Regions from separate parts of the Homo sapiens genome. Here regions 2 and 3 are each linked to region 1. Evidence: fine-mapped expression QTL. A gene starts in region 1. Each other region holds a variant in brackets. All regions are shown on one strand. Distances are from middle to middle.

What was found. PIP is the estimated chance that this variant, and not a neighbour inherited with it, causes the effect.
Region 2: its variant is the best candidate, but not a certain one, in a credible set for the expression of DOK1 in whole blood (TOPMed, PIP 0.63).
Region 3: its variant is the best candidate, but not a certain one, in a credible set for the expression of DOK1 in whole blood (INTERVAL, PIP 0.75).

The regions. Positions count from the first base shown.
Region 1 is chr2:74,553,546-74,556,309 of GRCh38, forward strand. DOK1 (docking protein 1) reads left to right here and starts at 1,175. Exons shown (of 5, transcript NM_001381.5): 1 at 1,175-1,269; 2 at 1,609-1,908; 3 at 2,030-2,123; 4 at 2,349-2,533; 5 at 2,763-2,764. The coding sequence starts at 1,210. It overlaps LOXL3 (lysyl oxidase like 3), which reads right to left and starts at 397. Exons shown (of 14, transcript NM_032603.5): 1 at 331-397. RefSeq lists a silencer at 517-1,266 and enhancers at 1,275-1,792, 1,417-1,476.
Region 2 is chr2:74,664,629-74,667,392 of GRCh38, forward strand. The region is part of intron 5 of SEMA4F (ssemaphorin 4F); the gene reads left to right. Among named protein-coding and RNA genes, the nearest start is that of SEMA4F, 12 kb to the left of the region's middle. The variant G/A (reference allele first, on the strand shown) is at 1,311.
Region 3 is chr2:74,607,642-74,610,405 of GRCh38, forward strand. All of the region lies in intron 3 of M1AP (meiosis 1 associated protein), which reads right to left. Among named protein-coding and RNA genes, the nearest start is that of M1AP, 39 kb to the right of the region's middle. The variant G/A (reference allele first, on the strand shown) is at 1,502.

The DNA of each region.
Region 1 (2,764 bases):
CAGCAAGCCCCCGTCAACATGCTTCCCCCAACCCAAACAATCAATCCAACAAGGCAGCTTTGTTCTGGGTTGGGGACCCAGGGGCAGCGCCTCCCGGAGGAGCCCCCTCCCTTAGGGCGCTCCTGGCGGCCCTGTTCGAACACCCGTAGCCCCCGCCTCCGGTATGTGCCTCCTCCGTGTACTCTGTCTCACTTGCCCTTTGACAAGAATCAAACTCTCAGTTGGGTGGCTTCCCCTCGACTCCATCCCACACCACCCGTTTTCCCTGGTCCCTCCACATCCTCTCCATCCCCTACTCATTCCCTCTGCGGTTAGCGTGACTCCCCCTACCTTGGCCGAGCAGGACCCTAAGGGCTGGGAGAAGAGTGCTGGTCCTGGAGATCAGTCCTAGGACTTCCAAAAAAAAAAAAAAATGCTCGGCCAGGGGAGACTGGACCCCCCTCTCTCCCCCTTCTCCGTTCGTCCCTCCCACATCCCCCTGAGCCCTCCCACATTCCGCCTTCTCCTTCCATTCCTCCCGGCCAGTTCCCTCCTCTCCTCCTCTGGGTCCTCCCTCCCCGTGGAGCTGGCCACTGCCGCGCCCCCTCCCCCTCCCTGGCCCTCCCGGCTCGTTCAATGAAGCTTTCTCTTCCCGCGGCATGGAGGCCAGGCCTCTGCGGTCAGGGAGCTGACATGCAAGCGGCGGCCGGGCGGCGGGGCGGCCCCGGTGGTGGCGGGAAGCGGTTCAACCCCAGCCCTCCCTCCGAGTCCCGGGCCAGCGGAGTCTAAACAGCCCGGCTCGGGCGGGGCTGGGGGCGGGCCCGGCCAGGGTAAATAAAGCCCCGGAGGCCCGTGTGGGTCTCTCCGGTGCCCGGGGCGCTTTCGGGGTGATGTCATGGCTTTCACTCTGACGTCACCTTGGGCATATGACGTCACGCGCAGCCACCACGCCCAGAGGCCAGGGCCCTCGCGCCAAAACCGAGGACTTTCGGTGGAGCCACTGGCGCGCCCCCACGACGGCGGGTAGGGGCCTGGGGTGCTGCAGCTCCCGGCTAATCCGGGGGTCTCCACCATTCCTTCTCGCTCCTCTCCCTCACCCCACCGCGACCCCCCCAGCGGCTGCCGGCGGGGGCCGGGGAGGGGCGGAAACTCCTCCAGGGAACCCGGCCCCGCCTCCCGCCCCGCCTCCCGCCGCAGGGCCAGGAAGCGCGGAAGGAACCGCCGGGGGCCATGGACGGAGCAGTGATGGAAGGGCCGCTTTTTTTGCAGAGTCAGCGCTTTGGGACCAAGGTAGTCTGGCGCATGGATGCCGAACCTTATCCGGGCTAGTAGTGGGTGAGAGAGCCCAGAAACAGGGAGAGGTGGGCAGCGGGCTGGAGAGCGGCGCCGGGAGTTGGAGAGCCTGTGACTTTCCCGTGAAGTTGCTTTGCACACTCCCGGGAAGCGTCTGTAGTCTAGGGGTTCTGGTCCTGGGGAGACGGAGTGGCATCGTCCTTGGGAAACTTCGCCCCCAACCCCGTTTGGAAGCCCCAGATCCCAAATCGACTTGCGCCGCAACCTCCTTCCCCGTCGGGACCCGGGCCGCCTGCGCACGCCACTCCCTCTCGAGCACTCTCTCTCTCTCCCTAGAGGTGGAGGAAGACCTGGGCCGTGCTCTACCCGGCCAGTCCCCACGGCGTAGCGCGGCTCGAGTTCTTTGACCATAAGGGGTCGAGCTCTGGGGGTGGCCGAGGGAGCTCGCGCCGCCTGGACTGCAAAGTGATCCGTCTGGCTGAGTGTGTGAGTGTGGCCCCCGTCACCGTGGAGACCCCCCCTGAGCCCGGCGCCACTGCCTTCCGCCTGGACACTGCTCAGCGCTCGCACCTGCTGGCGGCCGACGCGCCGTCCAGTGCAGCCTGGGTGCAGACGCTGTGCCGAAACGCCTTTCCGGTGAGGAGCTGCGGCGATGCGGGGTGGGGGCAGTTACAGAGGCAGAGAAATGGGGCTGCCTCAGACCGACCCCCGCTCCCCGCTGAGGAAATTACGGGTTTCTCGATGCTCTCTACTACAGAAAGGCAGCTGGACTCTGGCGCCTACCGATAACCCACCTAAGCTTTCTGCCCTGGAGATGCTGGAGAACTCCTTGTACAGCCCTACCTGGGAAGGTAGACGCCTCAGAAGCCCGGGCAGGGATGGAGTGAAGAGGAGGAGGGCCGAGGGCCTTTGGGAAGTGGGTGGATACCCAGGGGCCCATGGGGAAGTAAGAAGTAGGAAGGCCCTGAGATCTGGCTTCCGAGTGAGTGCTTGGACACTATGCTCATGAGTCCTCTGGGTCCCCACTGCTGCCCCCGTCCCTCCCCCGCAGCTGTCTAATCGTGTATGCCTTCCAGGATCCCAATTCTGGGTAACGGTGCAGAGGACTGAGGCCGCCGAGCGCTGTGGCCTGCATGGCTCCTACGTGCTGAGGGTGGAGGCTGAAAGGCTGACTCTCCTGACCGTGGGGGCCCAGAGTCAGATACTGGAGCCACTCCTGTCCTGGCCCTACACTCTGTTGCGTCGCTATGGCCGGGACAAGGTGCAGGGGCTGTCCGGGAGGGCTTCCTGGGTTGGGCAGCTGTGGGAGGGGTGGGGCAGGACAGAAAGTGGGAAGCTCTGACCTTTGGATCCCCCTTTCTTGCCTACCCGGTGACCCCGCGTCTGTTCGCAGGTGGTCTCTTCTTTGTAGATACCCTAACTAGTGCAGGCGTGTGACTCACTTCCTCTGATGGCTCCTGGTAATGTGTTTCCCCCTCTACCCTCCTTAGGT
Region 2 (2,764 bases), 110 kb after region 1:
AGAATGTATTGTTGTCATTTAAAAAAATCTTTGCTATTTTGAGTCTAAAAATGACACCTTGTTTTTATTTGTATTTCTTTGAATATTAGTGAAGTTGAATGTTCTTCATGTTTTAGTACTTATTTTTATTTCTTCTTTGGTAAATCCTCTGCTCATGTTCTTGGACCAGTTAAGAGGTAGGATATTAGTATTTCAATTACATATCTTTTCCTTTGTGATTGTATATAATTTTTAAGCTCAATCCTTCACTTAAAGAGCAGATAACATTTTTTCTTAAAAATTTTTTCCAAACATATAACTCTTTGATCTGTTAATATTTGGCATTATTTTGATGAATCGCATGAGGGGGGATCTAAATTAATTTTTCCCAGCTAGCTAATCAGTTGACTCAGCATCATTGATCATACTGTTTTTTTCTTTCCTTGCTGACTTTTTTTGCCAACTTTATCATAAAATTAATTTTTACCTATATTTTTGGGAAATATTTTATGTTAAACAAAAATTGGGACACAAGATCTAACAATGAAAATTTTTTCCTATGCATGACTTTATTTTTTAGGGAAAGTTTTAAAAGCTATACAAATTAAATCACTCTTTTTCTTTTTTTTTTTTTTTTTTTGAGACAGAGTCTTGATCTCTTGCCCAGGCTGGAGTGCAGTGGCGCAATCTCCACTCACTGCGAACTGCACCTCCTGGGTTCACACCATTCTCCTGCCTCAGCCTCCCGAGTAGCTGGGACTACAGGCGCGTGTCACCATGCCCGGCTAATTTTTTGTATTTTTAGTAGAGATGGGGTTTCACTGTGTTAGTCAGGATGGTCTCAATCTCCTGACCTCGTGATCTGCCCACCTCGGCATCTCAAGGTGCTGGGATTACAGGCATGAGCCACCGCACCCAGCCATTAAGTCACTCTTTAGTCTTATAGTTAATGACTTATCTTTTTCTGAAAAATAAAAAAAAGTTTTTGAAAATGAGCATAAAGTATATATTGACTAAATACAATATTTTGAGTTGTCATGATTATCATTATCTATTGTTGAAATTGATGAGACCTTCCTTATACATGTTTGAATAAAACAATTTAGTGGATAGTTTATTTTTCTAGGTTTTTAATCAACATCTTTGATGACACTCAGAGTCATTAAAGATTTCTGAGTTTTCGTGGTTGTGATATCTCTTGAGTCTATAAAATTGTTTATCAGCAAAATGACTTCTTACTTGCAACACTCTAAGATAATCATTTATCGTACTTTTGTTTCAAGCAGTAATTTTTGTTTTTTTTTTTTTTTGTTTTTTTGAGACGGAGTCTC[G/A]CTCTGTCGCCCAGGCTGGAATGCAGTGGCGCCATCTCGGCTCACTGCAACCTTCGTCTCACAGGTTCAAGTGATTGTCCTGCCTCAGCCTCCTGAGTAGCTGAGATTACAGGCGCCCACCACCACTCCTGGCTAATTTTTGTATTTTTAGTAGAGATGGGGTTTCACCATGTTGATCAGGCTGGTCTCAAACTCCTGACCTCATGATCTGCCTGCCTCGGCCTCTTAAAATGCTGGGATTACAGGCGTGAGCCACTGCACCTGGCCTCAAGCAGTAATCTTTAAGCATGTTTAGCCCTCTGTGAGTAATTTCTCTTTATTAGGTCAGCAAGTGAATTCATATTAGAATGTGGTTTAAGAATACAAATTTCCAGTTTTAGTAAATGTGCTGCTGAAGCGAGCACAAGAATACAAATTCCATAAAGATCATTATAAGACAAAGTGGGAGGAACATTTTCAAAAAGGTTTTAAGTCTTTTTTTTTTTTTAAATAAAATTCAGGGTTGCCTTTCAGTTGATAATTGATGGAGGCGATCAGAACTCACTTCCTAATGGTTTAGAATGGTTAGCTTCAGTTAATGTGGAAACTCTATGTCTCTAGCTGTCTCAGATCCAAATCATAGTCAATACTAATATTATACATTTTCATCTGAAGTTATTACTTTACAGGGTTATAATTTAAAAGTTTTTCCTGGTCTGACATAAGTGCTAGCATTTACTTGGGGCTTTCAAGAATGATTCATTATGCCTTGCTTTGCCTCTGTTTTGAAAATAGCAGTATAGAAATAGTGGTAACATTATATAATCATTAGAACCAAAATTCCCAATTAGGTTCTGTAAAAATGTCCTTAAAGATAATAGCAGTATTTTGAAATGAAAAGAGCTTTTAATTATGAAAATATGATTAGAATATAATAGGAGTATTTACTTAAAATTGTAAAAATTACAATGTGCATTGTAGAAAATTGAGAAAATGTAGAAATATATAAAGAAGAAAGTAAAAATGTTATTTGTAATTCTATCATTACCAAGTAACCACTATTATTATTTTGGAGTATTTTGAGTGTTTTCTTCTACTGTGTCTATGTGTCTGCGTATTTATTATAACTTGGAATTATGTATATTTCATTTACTATTGTATACTGAGCATTTTCTCATCATAGAAATTGTTTCTTCAAAACATGATTTTTAGCAGTTGCATACAATTACATAATTTGTGCTGCATACACAGATGGATGTAGCATGACTTAATTATTTCTATATAATTATACATTCAAATTTTAAAATTATTGTTTTTAAACATAATGCTGCAGCAGGAATCCTTTTACATAATTCTTTGCATTAATCTACTTAATTGCATATGAGTCAATCCAAAAAGTGGAATTGCTAGGTGTAAGAGTATAGATTTTGATGGTGCTTGATGGATTTGGACAAATTAATTGCTCTCCAGTTAGT
Region 3 (2,764 bases), 54 kb after region 1:
TTTTTTTGTATTTTTAGTAGAACGGGGTTTCACCATGTTGGTCAGGCTGGTCTCGAACTCCTGACCTCGTGATCCGCCCGCCCCGGCCTCCCAGAGTGCTGGGATTACAGGCGTGAGCCACCATGACTGGCCACTGTATGTTATTATTAGGAGTTTCCTCTTGAACTTTTAAAGACTGGACGGTAATCATTAAACATATGCAATTCTCATTTGTACTTAGATGTTTTTGATCCATGAAGAGGGATGTAGATTAAAGCACTATTATTATTATTATTATTTTAAAAGACATTATTTTTTAGGGAAGTTTTAGGTTCACAGCAAAATCGAAAGGAAGGTACAGAGATAGCCCATATACCCCTTGTCCCACATATACATGGCCTCCCTCATTATCAGTATCTTCCACCAAAGTCATTGCAATTGATGAACCTATATTGACACATCATAATCACCCAAAGTCCACAGATTACATTAGGGTTGACTCTTGGTGTAGTACATTCTATGAGTCTAGACAAATGCATAATGACATGTACCCATCAGTATAATAAATATCATATTGAGCCTTTTCACCACCCTAAGAATCCTCTCTGCTCTATCTATTCATCCCTCCTTCTCCTCAACCCTTGGCAACCATTGATCTTTTTACTATATCACCATAGTTTTGCCTTTTCCAGAATGTCATATAGTTGGGGATATATATGCAGCCTTTTCAAATTGGCTTCTTTCACTTAGTAATATGCATTTAAGGTCCCTCCATATCTTTCTGTAGCTTGATAGCTCATTTCTTTTTAGTGCTGAATAATAATCCATTGTCTGGATGAATCATAGTTTATTTATCCATTCATCTGCTGAAGGACATCTTGGTTGCTTCCAAGTTTTGGCAATTACGAATAAAGCTGCCATAAATACCCAAGTGCGGATTTTTGTGTGGATAGGTTTTCAACTCCTTTGGGTAAATACCAAGAAGCATGATTTCTGGATTATATGGTAAATGTATGTTTAGTTTTGTAAGAAACCATCAAACTATCTTTCAAAGTGGCTGTGCCATTCTACATTCCCATCAGCAATGAAGGAGAGTTCCTGTTGCTCCACATCCTCACCAGCATTTGGTGTTGTCAGTGTTCTGGAATTTAGCCATTTTAATAGGTATGTGGTGGTATTTCATTGTTGTTTTAATTTGCATTTCCCTGATGACATATGATGTGGAGCATCTTTTCATGTTTGTTTACCATTTGTGTACTTTCTTTGGTGAGGTATCTGATAAGGTCTTTGGTCCATTTTTTAAAGTTTTATTTTGTTTTTAATTGACACATAATAATTGTACACATTTACGGGTACAGTGTGATGTTTTGATACATTTATACATTGTGTAATGATCAAATCAGGGTAATTAGCATATCTATCACTTCAAACACTTCTCATTTCTTTGTGATGAGAACATTCAAAATCCTCTCTGCTATTTTGAAATATACATTACTGTTAACTATAGTCATGCTATTGTACA[G/A]TAGAACACCAGAACTTATTCCTCCTAATTGTAACTTTGCACCATTGGCCAACCTCTCCTCATGCACCCTTCCCCCCTATCCTCAGCCTCTGATAACCACTATTCAACTCTGTACTTCTATGAGATCAACGTTTTTAGATTCCACAAATGAGTGAGATCATGCAGTACTCGTCCTTCTGTGCCTGGCTTATTTCACTTAATATAATGTTCTCTAGACTCATCCATGTTGTCACAAACAACAGGCTTTTATTCTTTCTTATGAAGGAATGGTATTCCAATGTGTATAAATACCACATTTTAAAAATCCATTTATCCATTGATAGACACTCAGGTTGATTCCATATCTTGGCTACTGTGCACAGTGCTGCAATAAACCTGGGAGTGAAGATATCTCTCCAACACACTGATTTCATTTCCTTTGGGTATATACCCAGTAGTGGGATTGTTGGATTATATGGTAGCTCTGCTTTTAATTTTTTGAGGAACCTTCATATTGTTCTCCATAGTGGCTGTACTAATTTGCATTCTTACCAAAAATGTAAGGAGGGTCCCCTTCTCCATCTCCTCACCAATATTTGTTATTTTTTAAATCTTTTATATAGTAGCCATTCTAACTGGGGTGAGGTAATATTTTATTGTGGGTTTGATTTGCATTTCTCTGATTAGTGATGTTGAGCATTTTTGCACCTGCCTGTGGCCATTTGTATGTCTTCTTTTGAGAAATGTTTATTCAGCTTTCAGATTATTCATTTTTTCCCTGTTGAGTTGTTTGAGTTCCTTATATATTCCGGATATGAATCCCTTGTCAGATGCATAGTTTACAAATATTTTCTTCCATTCTGTAGGCTCTTACTTCACTCTATTTTTTTTTTTGAGACAGGGTCTCACTCTGTTGCCCAGGTTGGAGTGCAGTGGTTCAACCATGGCTCACTGCATGCAGCCTTGACCTCCTAGGCTCAAGTGATCCTTCTGCCTCAGCCTCCCATGTAGCTGAAACCACAGATGCATGCCACCATGCCTGGCTTATTTTTGTATTTTTTTTTTTTGTAGAGATGGAGGCCTCACCATGTTGACCAGACTGGTCTGGAACTCCTAGACTCAAGTGATCCTGCTGCCTTGGCCTTCCAAAGTGCTGGAATTACAGGTGTGAGCCACTGCACCTGGCCCACTTCAATCTTTTGATTGTTTCCTTTGGTGTGCAAAAGCTTTTTGGTTTGATAAAATTCCATTTGTCTATTTTTGCTTTTGTTGCCTGTGCTTTTG